Linked DNA regions of Homo sapiens: region 1 is linked to region 2. The links come from fine-mapping of genetic effects on gene expression. A gene starts in region 2. The other region holds a variant in brackets. All regions are shown on one strand. Distances are between the middles of the regions.

What was found. PIP is the estimated chance that this variant, and not a neighbour inherited with it, causes the effect.
Region 1: its variant is fine-mapped to the expression of SLC11A1 in whole blood (TOPMed, PIP above 0.99).

The regions. Positions count from the first base shown.
Region 1 is chr2:218,339,296-218,347,618 of GRCh38, forward strand. PNKD (PNKD metallo-beta-lactamase domain containing) reads left to right here. Exons shown (of 10, transcript NM_015488.5): 3 at 488-603; 4 at 734-846; 5 at 1,433-1,491; 6 at 2,239-2,331; 7 at 2,686-2,849; 8 at 4,205-4,291; 9 at 5,160-5,275; 10 at 5,513-7,498. The coding sequence ends at 5,686. All of the region lies in intron 2 of CATIP-AS2 (CATIP antisense RNA 2), which reads right to left. MIR6810 (microRNA 6810) reads left to right here and starts at 2,616; the gene lies at 2,616-2,685. RefSeq lists an enhancer at 4,223-4,722. The variant G/A (reference allele first, on the strand shown) is at 3,862.
Region 2 is chr2:218,378,149-218,386,471 of GRCh38, forward strand. SLC11A1 (solute carrier family 11 member 1) reads left to right here and starts at 4,125. Exons shown (of 15, transcript NM_000578.4): 1 at 4,125-4,227; 2 at 4,812-4,954; 3 at 6,095-6,217; 4 at 6,999-7,118. The coding sequence starts at 4,221.

The DNA.
Region 1 (8,323 bases), 39 kb before region 2:
TGGCCTGGGCTGCAGTGCAGTGGTGCGATGCCCAATTCTCCTGCCTCAGCCTCCTGAGTAGCTGGGACTACAAGCGTGTGCCACCACACCCGACTAAGTTTTGTATTTTTAGTAGAGACAGGGTTTCGCCATGTTAGTCAGGCTGGTCTCGAACTCCTGACCTCAGGTGATCCGCCCACCTCGGCCTCCCAAAGTTCTGGGATTACAGGTGTGAGCCACTGCGCCTGGCCTCTCCAATTTTCTTCTGTGAGTTCCTCAGTTCATGTCTCCCTGATAGATTTTGAGTTCTAGGTGTGTCCGTCTCATTCTCCATCTTGTCCTGAGTGCTAAGCAGGGCAAACAGTAGGCACATAATAAGTGAGAGTGGAATTGCATTGGCTCACAGGGTCACCAAAGGAATGGAGATGTGGGGCCTGCAGGCATCACGAAGGAGTCTAGGGGAGCTAGGGAGAAAAGGCTAATCATAGGCCACCCACTCGCCCTCTAGGTACAGCCTGTACACCCGCACCTGGCTCGGGTACCTCTTCTACCGACAGCAGCTGCGCAGGGCTCGGAATCGCTACCCTAAAGGCCACTCGAAAACCCAGCCCCGCCTCTTCAATGGTGAGCTCTGACTGCCCCGGCCAGCATCCCCCATTCTGTGCCCCCACCCTCCCCGCCTGCTCCCCTTCACATACCCCAGCCCCTGGGCTCCCTGCCTGTTACCCCGCCCACAGCCCATCTCTGTCCCCAGGAGTGAAGGTGCTTCCCATCCCTGTCCTCTCGGACAACTACAGCTACCTCATCATCGACACCCAGGCCCAGCTGGCTGTGGCTGTGGACCCTTCAGACCCTCGGGCTGTGCAGGTGAGGGGAGGGCAGGGAGCAGGGGGTGCCTGGAGTCACCTTGGGGACTGGCAGTTTCGCCTTGCTAGAGAGGGCTGACCCTTGTCCGTCTGCCCGTGGGATGTGTCCCATATGCTCCATGTTCACACGTGCACATGCGCACACATAGCCTGGGGAAGGGGGGTACAGGGCATGGCTGGGCAGAAGGGGAGAGCAGGAGTGGGGGATGCAGAGCCAGAGGGCTGGGGGTGTTGGCCCAGGACTCTGGGTCTAGTGAGTTTCCAGGCTGGCTTTCACTCCCATTGGCCCCCTTCAGACCCCCTTTCTTTCTGTCACCTCTGTCTGTCAGTATCTGGGTCTCTCTGTCTTTCCCTCCCATTCCTTATCTCTCTGTGTCTGCCTCTCTCTATGTACAAGTGTCCCTCTGCCTCCATGTGCCCCGTGCTTCACATTCCTGGATCTCTCCCCTCCAGCTCCATCCCTTTCCTCTGCTTCATCTCTCCATGCTCTCCTCTCCTCTCCACCAGCGCCCACACTCCTGGCTCTTGCTGCTTCAAGTGCCTCTTGCATCCTGCTCCCCAGTCTCCAAACCTCCTCTCTCTCGCAGGCTTCCATTGAAAAGGAAGGGGTCACCTTGGTCGCCATTCTGTGTACTCACAAGCACTGGTAAGGGGCTCCCGTCTTCCCTGGCCCACCCTTGTCCCAGCTGGGCTTGCCAGGACTGGGCCCATTGAGGACGGCCGGGGCCAGAGATCAAGAAGTCAGTACGGGCCGGCACCCGCCTTCCTCGTGAAGTCACCTGGACACCAGCAGGGAGGGAGGAGAGGGGACAGTCTCCCACCACTCCATTGATCAAGCTTCTGAAGCCCCAGAGGGCAGGGCAGTCATTTCTCTTTCATTTCATGGGCATGTATTAGATACCTACTGCACACTGGGCATGGACAAAAGTTATGACTCTTCCATCAAGGAAATTCTAAGACCAATAGGGGAGGTAGCCCTGTATCAAAGTATATAACAGCGGAGGCAAGAGGGTTGGGAGTTCAAGCCCAACCTGGGCAACATAGTGAGACCTTGTCTTCAAAAAAGAAGTATGTGATATTTAGGTAACAGTTGGCACAGGGAACAGGGATGGGAGGCCCAGGCACGGTGTGATCAGATCCACTTGGAGAATTGAAAGATGATGACCTGAGCTGAGGGTTCAGGAAGCTCGGCTGGCATTGGCCAGCTTGAGTTGTTGGGGGCGATGTTCTGGGCAAGGGAACAGCTTGAACAAAGGCCTAGAGGTGTGGACAACTTGGCTTAGTCCAGAAGCCACAGCCCCAGCACTTAAAGGCCTGGAGATGCTGTGGTAAAGAAGGGGGCTTAGGTACAGTTGCCCCTCGAAGCCCCCTGCCTGTCTCTGCTGTCCTGCAGGGACCACAGTGGAGGGAACCGTGACCTCAGCCGGCGGCACCGGGACTGTCGGGTGTACGGGAGCCCTCAGGACGGCATCCCCTACCTCACCCAGTAAGTCCCTGACCTAGGCAAGGGATGGCCCTTCCATGGGCCCTTTCCCCCACCCCCAGCCTTCAGTGAAGTGTTTCAGGGGTATCAGCAGGTGGATCTTTGCCAGTGCCCTTCCTGGCCCAATCCCAGCCTATCTGAAGACTGGCACTGCCCATCCCCCAACTGATCCAGCCATAGTCCCCAAAAGAGGAAAGGGGGAGGGTTCGGACCTGAGACCCGAGGCACTGGGGTGACTTCTTTTGTATGGAAGCCCACTCTCTTGTGAATCACCCAGCCCCTTGGGCCTGGGATGGGGACAGGGATCAGCATGGCACAGATCCAATACCTTCTGTCCCCTGCTCCCTTGTTCCCCAGTCCCCTGTGTCATCAAGATGTGGTCAGCGTGGGACGGCTTCAGATCCGGGCCCTGGCTACACCTGGCCACACACAAGGCCATCTGGTCTACCTACTGGATGGGGAGCCCTACAAGGGTCCCTCCTGCCTCTTCTCAGGGGACCTGCTCTTCCTCTCTGGCTGTGGTGAGTTTCCCCGAAAGAGAGAGGAGCTGGGAGAGGAGGGAGAGACAGAAGCCAGGGCAGCCACAGTCCCATGGAGAGCACTGAAGCCTTAGTTTTAGCACAGATGTTGCCGTGGCAGTTACTTCCATCTGTGTTACTCAGATTGGTTTTAATCCTTGAGACTTCCCTTGGGGCACCTTGGGAGGCTGAGGCAGGAGGATCACTTGAGGCTAGGAGTTGGAGACCAGACTGGGCAAAATAGCAAGACTGTCTCTACAAAAAAATTTTAAAATAGGCCAGGCGTGGTGGCTCATGCCTGTAATCCCAGCACTTTGGGAGGCTGAGGTGGGAGGATCACCTGAGGTCAGGAGTTCAAGACCAGCCTGGTCAACATGGTGAAACCCCGTCTCTACTAAAAATACAGAAATTAGCCGGGCATGGTGGTGCATGCCTGTAATCCCAGCTACTAGGGAGGCTGAGACAGGAGAACTGCTTGAACCCGAGAGGTAGAGGTTGCAGCGAGCTGAGATCGCGCCACTGCACTCCAACCTGGAAGACAGAGTGAGACTCTGTCACAAAACAGAAAAAAAAATTTAAATAATATAAATAATATAGGCCAGGAGCAGTGACTCAGGCCTGTAATCCCAGAACTCTGGGAGGCCAAAGCAAGTGGATTGCTTGAGCCCAGGAGTTCAAGACCAGCTTGGGCAACATGGTGAAACCCCGTCTCTACAAAAAATACAAAAATTAGCCAGTGTGGTGGTGAGCCCAGGAATTCAAGGTTGCAGTGAGCTATGATTGTGCCACTGCACTGCAGCCTGGGCAACAATGAGACTCTGTCTCAAAAATAAAAAAGACTTCTGCCAGCTGCGGGACAGAATGGGAGAATGTCTGTAGCTGAGTAAAGCCCTGCAGGGAATTAGTTTCCCCTGGGTGGAGACTGGTTCTCTGATACAGTGACTGGCAGGACTAGGTTATGAAAAGTTAAGAACAGCTAGGTGAGTGGGTGGGTGAGGATCACAAGTCCCAGGCT[G/A]CATGAAATCCCAAAGGGCAGCCTAGGCGAAGAAGTGTTCCGTGGGAAAGAGCAGCCCTGCGTCTACCAAGCCTGGGGCCTGCAGCCCGAAGATTCCACAGCCCCTCCCTTCAGGTGTCACTGTGTGCAACGGAGGCCTCGGATGGGCTTGGTCAGGGGGTGACCAGTTGGGCCCAGTTCCCAGTGAGGAGGGAATAGATGCCTGGGGTGGGTCTGGAAAGTGCACAGTCAGGGCTGACGGCCAGCCAGAGCATTACAAGCTGGTTCCCACCTGTCTGGGTGTGCCTTATGCCATATTGTGTTATCCTGGCACCTTGTGACATACCCTCCAACCCCCACCCAGGGCGGACCTTTGAGGGCAATGCAGAGACCATGCTGAGCTCACTGGACACTGTGCTGGGGCTAGGGGATGACACCCTTCTGTGGCCTGGTGAGACACCCCCTTACTACTCCCCATCCTCCAGCCCCACGCTCAGCCTGGGACAAGGGCCTTCCCACCCCCTCACTCCCCTAGAAAGCAGGCCAGCCCAGTTCCTGGCCCAGAAGCGACACAGCTCCACCTCTAGGGGTAGGGACAGAGTTCTGGCCTCCCTTCTTCCTGGAGTGCTGGCTCCGTACCACCTCTGCTTCTCACACTACCTTCCCCTGCCAGTCAGCCTTCAGCCTCTTGGGAGCCTTGCAGGCCCCAGGGCATTCCAGAGAGATGTCTAATTGTTCATAGCCTTAGCCCAGAACAGAAAATAGCCTTTGCTTATCTGGGGAGAAGTCAGTAAATCCACTCTGCATGTAACCATTGCCTTGTGGTGCATAAAAACATTCACAGATATCTGTTAATCCTCAGAACATATATTCATTCATTCATTCATTCATCAAGTACTTTATGTGCACCTAACACATACCAGGCTCTGTTCCAGGCACCAGGAACACAGCAGGTACATCTGTGTCTGGTGGCATCATTGTTCTCTCCACTTGCCAAATGAGAAAATTGTGCCTCAGAGAGGGGCCATGACTAGACCGAGGTCACATGCTAGGCTTGGTGGAGTCAGGGCTAGATGCAGGCCTGCCAGCTCCAGGTCTAGTGGTTTTTTCCCCTGGAACTATTGCCACCTTTTCACCCATGGCTGACTTGTGCCCACAGTTAGAGAAGCAGCTCCTGGCAGTTGGGGTTTTCCTGGAAGTGCTGACCTCATCCCTAGTTGTCAGGTGCCCATCAGCCTGGACCTGGGGCAGGGAAGACTGTTCTGACTGTACCACCAATCTCTCTCTGCTCTGTGTCTCACCCTCATGGCTGTCGGTAGGTCATGAGTATGCAGAGGAGAACCTGGGCTTTGCAGGTGTGGTGGAGCCCGAGAACCTGGCCCGGGAGAGGAAGATGCAGTGGGTGCAGCGGCAGCGGCTGGAGCGCAAGGGCACGGTGAGGGACTCGGGGTCCAGGAGGAGCTGTGTGGGCAGGCACTCAGCCCCAACGGGAACCCATCCATGCTGACCCCAGGCCTGCGAGCACCTCCCCAAAACTCTGACCTCTTTGGCCCATGGGCCCTCAAGTCAGAACTCCTGAACTCCAGGATGGGGCAGGGGTCGGGTCAGGCTTCTCTGTCTTGGGTCCATTTCCCAGCTTCTCTCCACCAAACCTGGTTCCTCTCACCCACAGTGCCCATCTACCCTGGGAGAGGAGCGCTCCTACAACCCGTTCCTGAGAACCCACTGCCTGGCGCTACAGGAGGCTCTGGGGCCGGGGCCGGGCCCCACTGGGGATGATGACTACTCCCGGGCCCAGCTCCTGGAAGAGCTCCGCCGGCTGAAGGATATGCACAAGAGCAAGTGATGCCCCCAGCGCCCCCAGCCCAGCCCACTCCCCGCATGGGGAGGCCGCCACCACCAACACCTCATCATCCTTCTCATCGCTAACACCACCACCTCCATCGGCACCCAAGCGGGCATCATCCCCCCACACTGCTCAGGGGAGGGGAGGGATCAGGCGATGAGACTGTGAGGCCAAAAGAAGGGGGCCTGTTGGAGGCTGGGAACCCCGCAGCGCGAGGCTGCCTCATCAACGGCAAGAGGAAAGGAGGGGTCTCGGGACATCTCCAGACCCTACCAACTGGGAGGGTCCCCTCCTCCTTCCCTACTCCTGGGACGGCAGCAAGGACATGGGGGCTGCTGTTAGCTTCTCCGTCAGGAGGCCTCATCTCACTGTAGCCCTGGAACCCAGGGTCCATCTTGCCCTTCCCCCATCCATGGTTGGGAAAGAAGCTCAGCCCCTCACAGTGGCCTCAAGTGTGATGCCTTACAAAAGCACCACTCAGATGGGCAGCTGGACTCTGGTGTCCTGAGACTCTGCCCTCTTCCCACAGCCTCCCTGCCCCACCCATCCCTGCAAAGCCATTTTTCAGACAGAGCCATTCCTAAGAACACTGAAGGGCTGGAATGCTGGCTGGCCACTCTCTGCCTCAGTGGCCTCCCTACAGCCTGGAAGAAGGAGGGTCCTGATTGCCAAGGAAACCTCCTCATTGGGCTAAGGAGACACTGGAGTCTGGAGTGTGGAGCCCCACAGTCTTGCAGGTCACATGCTCTCCTTGCACATCTGGCCTGGTTGTACCCACTGGCCTCTGCCTCTGCCCTGGGCCAAAAGGGCCCCTCCTTGCCAGGGGAGAGACAGCCACGGTCCTCTTTGGCCGATGCTGTATTCTCATTTTGGCCCTTGTTCTTAGGCCCGTCTGCCCGCCTTCCTCCATCTAACCTTTCCTGTTTTATCCGCAGCCCTTTTCTTCTTTGAGTTAGTAAAGATTTATTCTGTAACCTGACACTCATCTGGCCCTTTGCAGTTTGCCAGCCATATTCCCATGTGATTTCCCACTGGATCCAGGCCCCCATCCGGCTGGCAGGAGGGGGCTCTGACGTGCAGGTTGGAAATCAGAAGTCTGTGAGAGCGCGGGAGTGCATGGCAGCTCTGGGTCCCAGACCTGGCCCGACCCCTCTGCTTCACCTCCAGCTCTGCTGCTCCTCTACTCTTGGGTCGAGATCCCTTTGGAGCCACAGCGAGGAACCCTGTGGTCCTCAGGCAGGTGTACCTTGAGTCAGCCAGGAGCCCTCTTTTCCTGTGTCAAAGCCTGCCCTCGGGCTCTGCTCACCTCTGGTGACCCTCCAAGATGCCCCTGCCCTCAGTTTCCCCTCATGATCTGGCCTCTGCCCCCTTCTCTAGCCACAGCCTCTAGTACACTTTAGCAATACCACCAGACTAGTTAGAGTTCCCCACTCACCAAGCAAGACATGCAGTTTCATGCCTCTGTGCCTTCGCTCATGCTGTTTCTTCCGACTGGAATGCCTTCCCCTGCTCCTCCTGCCTTGTCTGCCTGGCAAGTTCATCTCTCACGATCCCCTCAAAGGCCCCCTCCTCCAGGAAGGCAACCCCTGTGCCCCTCCCCTCCAGGCTACCTCTGCACTTTGTCAATGCTTCTCTTGTGGCACTTATCACACTGTATTTTACTTGTTTACATGTTTGTCTCCCCTTCTAGACTGTGAATCCTTAAGGGCATGGACTGTATCTTATGCATCTCTGTATTTCTGCGCCTAGCACGGTGCCTAGCACACAGTAGGCGCTCAATAAATGTTGAATGAATGAATGATTTAATCAAGACTTGATCACCCAACAGCTTGTCTTTGTTGCTACATGAGTGAAAACAGCAGAGAACTTTCTCACAGTTTTCCCATCTCAGTTCCAGGCCTGCTAACTTGCAGTTAGGCACTTCAAGAGTTTTGATCAGAAATGATGCCCAAAGGCTGGGCGCAGTGGCTCACACCTATAATCCCAGCTCTTTAGGAGGCTGAGGCGGGTGGATCACAAGGTCAGGAGTTCGAGACCAGTCTGGCCAACATAGTGAAACCTCATCTGTACTACAAATACAAAAAATTAGCCAGACATAGTGGCAGGAGCCTATAATCCCAGCTACTCAGGAGGCTGAGGCAGGAGAATCACGTGAACCCAGGAGGCGGAGGTTGCAGTGAGCCGAGATCGCACCACTGCACTCCAGCCTGGGCGACAGAATGAGACTCTGTCTCAAAAAAAAAAAAAATTTTTTTAAAAAGAGAGAGAGAAATGATGCCTAAAATATGTTCTTCCCAAGGCCCATGGGCATTTGTTCAGGGTTTACGATTTGCTTATCTCAATGTTTCCCAAAGCTTGAGATACACAAGTGTACCACTGGCCAAAGTAGGGTGGCTGTACATGGCCACAGCACAGCAATCAATTGGACTTCAAGGACACGGTCTTGGCACTAGTCTGTCTTTAATGTCTTTGGAAAGAAAGACCCGGGATCCAGGTTCATACTTTAGTTGGGAAATGTCTGTAGTTAAGCTTTAACAACATCGTTTTGTTTTCATTATATTTATATTTGGGTTCAATATTTATTTTTGACAAGTGACACTGGTTTTCAGTTCATAAAAATGATTAAAGGGCCGGGCG
Region 2 (8,323 bases):
GAAGACATCCCAGCCTCAACCCCAGTCATCCCCACATGAGCCCAAAGCAGTGATTAGGAAATACGTGCAAACCTCTGAGGCAAGGGATGGTGACAGTACCGTGAGCAATAGGATTGCACAGTGAGTGACAAGCCATGATGCTGCTGTCTCCTCTCTGGACCCATCATTCATCCCTCTTCCCACACCTCTCTAGTTCCTCCAGCCTCGTCCATCAATGAGGAGCCAGAAAATTGGCTGCCTCTCCCACCCTAGCCTCCCAAACTTCATCTAAGTTTTTGACGGGGTCAGGCACGGTGGCTCAAGCCTGTAATCCCAGCACTTTGGGAGGCTGAGGCAGGCGGATCACTTCAGCCCAGGAGTTCGAGACCAGCGTAGGCAACATGGCAAAACCCTGCCTCTACAAAAAATACAAAAATTAGCCAGTCTTGGTGGCATGCACCTGTAGTCCCAGCTACTCGGGAGGCTGAGCATGGGAGTTCAAGGCTACGGTACTGCACTCTAGACTGGGTGACAGAGTGAGACTCTGTCTCAAAAAAAAAATAGTTTTTGACTCAACATGGGGATAAATTATAACCCAGGTCAATTCTGGGCCTGTAAACCTCTCTAGAAGGAAAAACTCTCTTTCTCTACTCTCAACAGTTCTAACACCAAATGTGTGAATTTTCCACACCAGCAAAATTATCCAATTCTCTGTGGACAACAACTGGGTTTCCTACAATTAACTCAATTCTGACATGAACTACCTGGAGCCAGCACAGGCCCCACAGGTGAAGAGCTCAGTCCCACAAGACTGCCCCCACTTCAGGTGCCAGTTGCAGGTAGTGGGTTCCCAGATTACCCACTCTCCTCTCCAATTTAGCTACAAACAGGAGGTCCCTATGACCCTCAGGTTTGGTAACTTGTAGCTCATAGAACTCAAAGAAACACTTTGCTCTTTCTGGTTTATTATTAAGGATACACCCAAGAACAGCCTAATGGACAAGGGATGGAGGGAGTGCCCAGAGCTTTTCTGCCCTTTCCAGACATGCCACCCTCCCCGAATCTCAACGTGTTCACCAACCCGGAAGCTCCCTGAAACCCACAATTTAGGATTTACATGGAGGTTCCATTATGTAGGCATGAGTGATTAAATCATTGGCCATTGGCCAAGCCTGGGGGCCTGTAATCCTCGTGACTCTGTATCCTGGCAATTTGAGAGGCTGAGATGGGAAGATCACCAGAGGCCAGGAGTTCAAGACCAGCCTGGGCAACATAGTGAGACCTGTCTCTAAAAAATTTAGAAAGAAAAAGTAAAATAAAAAATCAGCCAGGTGCAGTGGTTCATGCCTGTAATCCCAGCACTTTGGGAGGTTGAGGTGGGTGGATCACTTGAGTGGGACTGCAGGTGAGTACCACCATGCCCGGCTAATTTTATTTTTTGTAGAGACAAGGTTTCACTATGTTGCCCACGCTGGTCTCAAACTCCTGGACTCAAACAATCCTCCCACCTCAGCCTCCCAAAGTGCTAGGATTAACAGGAGTGAGCCACCACTCACTCCAGTGGGCATGAGTCAAGCTGGATTTCATAGTATTTTCTTGTTTTTTTTGTTTGTTTGTTTGTTTTTGTTGTTGTTTTTTGTGGTGGGGGGTGAGACAGAGTCTTGCTCTGTCTCCCAGGCTGGAGTGCAGTGGCTTGATCTCAGCTCACTGAAACCTCTGCTTCCTGGGTTCCAGCAATTCTCCTGCCTCAGCCTCCAGAGTAGCTGAGATTACAGGCATGTGCCACCACGCCCAGTTAATTTTTTGTATTTTTAGTAGAGACGGGGTTTCACTATGTTGTCCAGGCTGGTCTCGAACTCCTGACCTCAAGTGATCTGCCCGCCTCGGCCTCCCAAAGTTCTGGGATGACAGCGTGAGCCACCACACCCGGCCTCTTTTTCTTTCTTTCATTTTTTTCTCCCTTCCCATGCAGTTTTTCTTACTCCCAACCTCTCTCATAGTTTATCTTACCTGCTTGCCATCCTTGGGCAGCTACATTTTTGACCTCTTAGCCAGTTTGAGTCTTTCTTTTTTTTTTTTTTTCACTCAGTCTCACTCTGTCACCAAAGCTGAAGTGCAGGGGCATGATCACGGCTCACTGATCATGCCAGCCCCAACCTCCTGGGCTCAAGCAAACCTCCCACCTCAGCCCTGCCCCAAGTAATGGAGACTACAGGTGTGGGCCATCACTCCCAGCAAATTTTTTTTTTTTGAGACGGAGTCTCGCTCTGTCACCCAGGCTGGAGTGCAGTGGCGCGATCTCGGCTCTCTGCAAGCTCCACCTCCCGGGTTCACACCATTCTCCTGCCTCAGCCTCCTGAGTAGCTGGGACTACAGGAGCCCGCCACCACGCCCGGCTAATTGTTTTTTGTTTGTTTGTTTGTTTATTGGGTTTTTTTTTGTATTTTTAGTAGAGACAGGGTTTCACCATGTTAACCAGGATGGTCTCGATCTCCTGACCTCGTGATCCACCCTCCTCAGCCTCCCAAAGTGCTGGGATTACAGGCATGAGCCACCACACCCGGTCATGCCCAGCTAATTTTTAAATTTTTTGTAGAGATGAGATCTCACTATGTTGCCCAGGCTGGTCTCAAACTCCTGTGAGCCCCTCAGTTAATAGAAGAAACAGTCAAGCATGGTGGCATAGGTCTGTATTCCCAGCTACCCGAGAGGCTGAGAAGGGAGGCTCTCTTGAGCTCAAGAGTTTAAGGCTATATGCCAGGCATGGTGGCTCACACCTGTAATCCCAGCACTTTGGGAGGTTGAGGTGGGTGGATCACTTGAGACCAGGAGTTCGAGACCAGCCTGGCCAACATAGTGAAACCCCGTCTCTACTAAAAAAAATACAAAAATTGGCTGGGCACAGTGGCTCACACCTGTAATCCCAGCACTTTGGGAGACTGAGGCGGGCGGATCACAAGGTCAGGAGTTTGAGACCAGCCTGGCCAACATGGTGAAATCCCATCTCTACTAAAAATACAAAAATTAGCCAGGTGTGGTTGGCAGGTGCCTGTAATCCCAGCTACTCAGGAGGCTGAGGAAGAAGAATTACTTGAACCCAAGAGGCAGAGGTTTCGGTGAGCCAAGGTCGCGCCATTGCACTTCAGCCTGGGTGACAGAGCAAGACGCCATCTCAAAGTAAATAAATACATACATACATACATACATACAAAAAGTAGCCGGGTGTGGTGGTGCATGCCTGTAGTCCCAGCTACTCAGGAGGCTGAGGCAGGAGAATTGCTTAAACATGGAGGACAGAGGTTGCAGTGAGCTGAGATTATGCCACTGCACTCCAGTCTGGGCAACAGAGTAAGACTCTGTCTCAAAAAAAAAAAAAAAAGGAGTTTGAGGCTGCAGTAAACTAAGATGGCACCACTGCACTTCACACCTCACTCTAGCCTGGGTGACAGAGCGAGACCTTGTCTCTAAAAAAAAAAACAAAAAACGAAAAACCAAAAAAAAAAAGGGTGGGGGTGGAATAGAATAAACAACTCTGAGAAGGGACATGATCTGGTGACAATCTCAAGTGAATCAGTGGTTGAACCAGGACCAGATCCCAGTGCCCCATCTTCTGGGGACGTCCTGGGTCTGAATCTTCAATGCATGTCCCTTCTGCAGTGCCTTCCTCTGTGGCCCTCAAAGGGAAACTGAAGCCTTTGAGGACATGAAGACTCGCATTAGGCCAACGAGGGGTCTTGGAACTCCAGATCAAAGAGAATAAGAAAGACCTGACTCTGTGTGTGTGTACGTGTGTGTGTACGTGTGTGTGTGTGTGTGTGGCAGAGGGGGGTGTGGTCATGGGGTATTGACATGAATACGCAAGGGGCAGGAAGCATCTGAAATCAGAGCTAACTTGGGAGGCACAGAACACGGGGTGCCTGGAAGGGGAACAGATGTGTTGTGGGGCACAGGGCAGGCTGGGAGGGGAACAAAGGTCCACTCCATGGGTAACCAGACCCTTCCGCCAGGGCTGGCCACTTCTGCCTTTGGAAAATGTTTCACAACGCCCCATGTTGTGTGTGTGTGTGAATCGGCCGATGTGAACCGAATGTTGATGTAAGAGGCAGGGCACTCGGCTGCGGATGGGTAACAGGGCGTGGGCTGGCACACTTACTTGCACCAGTGCCCAGAGAGGGGGTGCAGGCTGAGGAGCTGCCCAGAGCACCGCTCACACTCCCAGAGTACCTGAAGTCGGCATTTCAATGACAGGTGAGTAGTGGCCCCTAGGGACAGAGCCTGATTGGGGGGTGGAGTGGAGGAGATCACTAGGCTGGTGGAGACTTGAGGAAGCAAGAAAGCCCTTGGTCCCCTGTGGAAGCCTCTGGTCCCCCGTGGGAGTCCTAGTCTAGAACACAGTTCTGGACACCAGACTCAATCTCACTGGGTGGAGTCCTTCACACCCCTAAGCGGTCTACCTTTCCTTTGTCTGAAGTCCGTGGATCAAAGCCCCTGGAGCTTTCTGGGCTGCCGGAGAAGGTGAGGGGTCCAGCCAAGGGGCAGACATGTGGCCTCAGCTTGCCCTTCTTAGAGCCTAGGGTCTCTCTGCATTCTCTGTGGCAGGAGATCTGCCTCTGGGCATCTGTCCTCACATGAGAGGACAGTAATTCTGAAGCTGCCATGTCCCACACATCTGGAATGTTTGTTTGAGAGGTGGAGGTGATGGACCCAAGATGGGGGCCAGGGACCTTAGTTTCTCCACTTTTCCGGGAGGAGGAGGGAAAGGATCAGGCGGCTTTAACTCTGGGCCACCAGAAAGAGGCAGGACACTCACCATGCTTCATGGGCCCCCACAGGTGACAAGGGTCCCCAAAGGCTAAGCGGGTCCAGCTATGGTTCCATCTCCAGCCCGACCAGCCCGACCAGCCCAGGGCCACAGCAAGCACCTCCCAGAGAGACCTACCTGAGTGAGAAGATCCCCATCCCAGACACAAAACCGGTGGGATGCTGGAAACTTCCTGGGGGCTTGCAAGATTGACAGGATCCTGAAGGATCCCATGGGCTGGAGAATGGGGTCTCCTTATGATCATGGGTGGCAAGTCCCTTCCAGGTCTGAGCAGCAGTGGTGGACAGTGGCAACTGCCCCTTCCTGCTTCCGTCCCCAGTGCTTAGCTGGGGTGCTTCAGTATTTGTCTAAAAGCGATTAAATGACTTTCTCAATGAATCTCAGCTTTCCTATGAAGGAAAAGAGGCCCAGGGGGAATTGGGATTGGAGCCTTGAGGACATGTTATAGCATTTAGGAAAGGGCATAGGGAGAAGTGAAGGAGGCTGCAGGCTGGCATCTAGCATCTAGGATGCTGTCACCTGCATTTCCAGTATCTTCTCTTTTTTTGGAGATGGAGTCTCGCTCTGTAGCCCAGGCTGGAGTGCAGTGGCGCGATCTCAGCTCACTGCAACCTCCGCTTCCCAAGTTTAAGCGATTCTCCTGCCCCGGCCTCCCGAGTAGCTGGGATTACAGGCATGCACCACCATGCCAGGCTAATTTTTGTATTTTTACTAGAGACAGGGTTTCACCATGTTGGCCAGGCTGGTCTCAAACTCCTTAGCTCAAGTGATCCACCCACCTCGGCCTTCCAAAGTGCTGGGATTACAGACACGAGCCAACGCTCCCAGCCTCCAATATCTTCAGCAGATTTCTAAGTCAATATGCCATGCTCTGGAACAGGGTGGGGGGACCATAGCCTCAGCGGACCACAGAGAGGAGGCCCCGTGGTCTGAAAAGGAGCTGGCAAGGGAGGAGCTGGGCTAGGGAAGCTTGGCCCCCTCACCCCCTTAGACAGCCCCCTGTGAGGTCTCTGAGGACCTGACAAGTCAGGGCTTGAGGGGCAGGCAGTTCAGGTGCAAGCCGGCTGCTGAGCTTAACAGATCCAGAAAAAGATCCTCTGTGACTCATCAGAGCATGCTGCTTCCTCCACCCATGCCCTCCCCATCCCTTGGGTGGCAGACCCAGGAATGGGCCATGGAGGGCAGGGCTGGGCTGATGAGCCTGTTGGGGCTCCTCTAGGGGATGGCCAAGGCCAGCTGCCACCATCCCTATACCCAGGACCCCCTCACTCTACTCCTCCCACCCCCCAACAGGGCACCTTCAGCCTGCGGAAGCTATGGGCCTTCACGGGGCCTGGCTTCCTCATGAGCATTGCTTTCCTGGACCCAGGAAACATCGAGTCAGATCTTCAGGCTGGCGCCGTGGCGGGATTCAAAGTAACTAAGTCGGGACCTGAGTGGGGACACTTTCGAGAGGGAGGTGACCAGGCTAAGTGTTGAAGGCCCCTGCTGGCCATGTTTCTCCAATGTGGCCTGGGAGCTGGTGTTAAGTTCAAATGGGCCCGAAAAGGGTCCCCAGGGCAGCCCTGCCAGAAGGTGGGGCATTTGTGTGGGGGGTAGGGGACTGGACTCCTCTCTTTAAAATATATATATGTATATTTATTTATTTATTTATTTAATTTTATTTTTTGAGACTCAGTCTCACTCGGTCACCCAGGCTGGAGTGCAGTGGCACAATCTCGGCTCACTGCAACCTCTGCCTCCCGGGTTCAAGTGATTCTCCTGCCTCAGCCTCCTGAGTAGTGCATGCCACCACGCCTGGCTAATTTTTGTATTTTTAGTAGAGATGGGGTTTCACTGTGTGGGCCAGGCTGGTCTTGAACTCCTGACCTCAAGTGATCCACCGCCTCGGCCTCCCAAAGTGCTGGGATAACAGGTGTGAGCCACCTTGCCTGGCGTAATTTATTTATTTATTTAGAGATGGGGGTCTCACTATGTTGCTCAGGCTGCTCTTGAACTCCTGGACTCAAGCAATCCTCCCACCTTAGCCTTTTAAAGTGCTGGGATTACAGGGTGAGCTACCAGCGCCCAGCCAGGATGGGACTCCATCTCTCCCACCCCCTCCCCGAGGAGTATGCTTGGTTAGAGGGTACCACGAGCTCAGGGGCTTTCTGAGGCTGGCCTCTCTGGCTGAAGGCCTCTCCCTGCCTCCTCACAGCTTCTCTGGGTGCTGCTCTGGGCCACCGTGTTGGGCTTGCTCTGCCAGCGACTGGCTGCACGTCTGGGCGTGGTGACAGGCAAGGACTTGGGCGAGGTCTGCCATCTCTACTACCCTAAGGTGAGCTTGGGGGGCCTGGACAGGGAGAACCACTGGCCCCAAACCCCAAACAGCCATTTTCAGCTTCCACGATCAAATAAATACATCATCTCACATGGGGCATCCCAAGTCTGTTTGTTTTTGTTGTTGTTTGTTTGTTTTTCAGTCGGAGTCTCGCTCCGTCGCCCAGTCAGGAGTGCAATGGTGCGATGTCAGCTCACTGCAACCTCTACCTCCCAGGTACAAGTGATTCTCCTGACTCAGCCTCTCAAGTAGCTGGGATTACAGGCGCCCACCACCATCATCGGCTAATTTTTGTATTTTTAGTAGAGCTGGGGTTTCACCATGTTGGCCAGGCTGGTCTCAAACTCCTGACCTCAGATGATCCACCCACCTCAGTCTCCCAAAGTGCTGGGATTACAGGCATGAGCCACTGCATCCGGCCCCAATTCCATTTGATAGATGGAAAGACTGAGGCTCAAACTGATAGCACATAGCCTAGAGGGACATGAGAGGCATGTCATTTCACAGAAGGGGTAATTAAAATTTGGGAAAGAGACTTGCCCAAGACAAAAAATGGGGAGGCATCAGCTCAGGAATGGTCACTGGTTGGGGTGGACCCTGGGGACTTCGTTGTTGTGAGTGTCCAGTTTGGAAAACAGAAATTACAGCACTGGACATTTCAAAGGTATTGAATGCAGGGATTGAAAGGTTTGGGAGGGCTTGAGGGGCAAGGGAAGAGGGTGTTACAAAAAGATCAGAAAGCTGCTACACCTCTGGCACAAGCCCCAGAGCCATCCTTTGCTGCTGAGCTCCTGGAAGCATTATTGATGCTGATGAAATGGCCACTAGTGCTGCCAGAGTCCGGGTTGCCTGGTGCCACTGCCAGAAATACAAGAAGCAGGGGGAGAAAATGGTTTATCTCAGCCTGGGGCGGTGGCTCACGCCTGTAATCCCAGCACTTTGGGAGGCCAAGGCGGGTGGATCACCTGAGGTCGGGAGTTCGAGACCAGCCTGACCAACATGGAGAAACCCCGTCTCTACTAAAAATACAAAACTAGCCGGGCATGGTGGCACATGCCTGTAATCCCAGCTACTCGGGAGGCTGAGGCAGGAGAATCGCTTGAACACGGGAGGCGGAGATTGTGGTGAGCCGAGATCATGCCATTGCACTCCAGCCTGGGCAACAAGAGCAAAACTCTATTTCGAAAAAAAAAAAAAAAGTT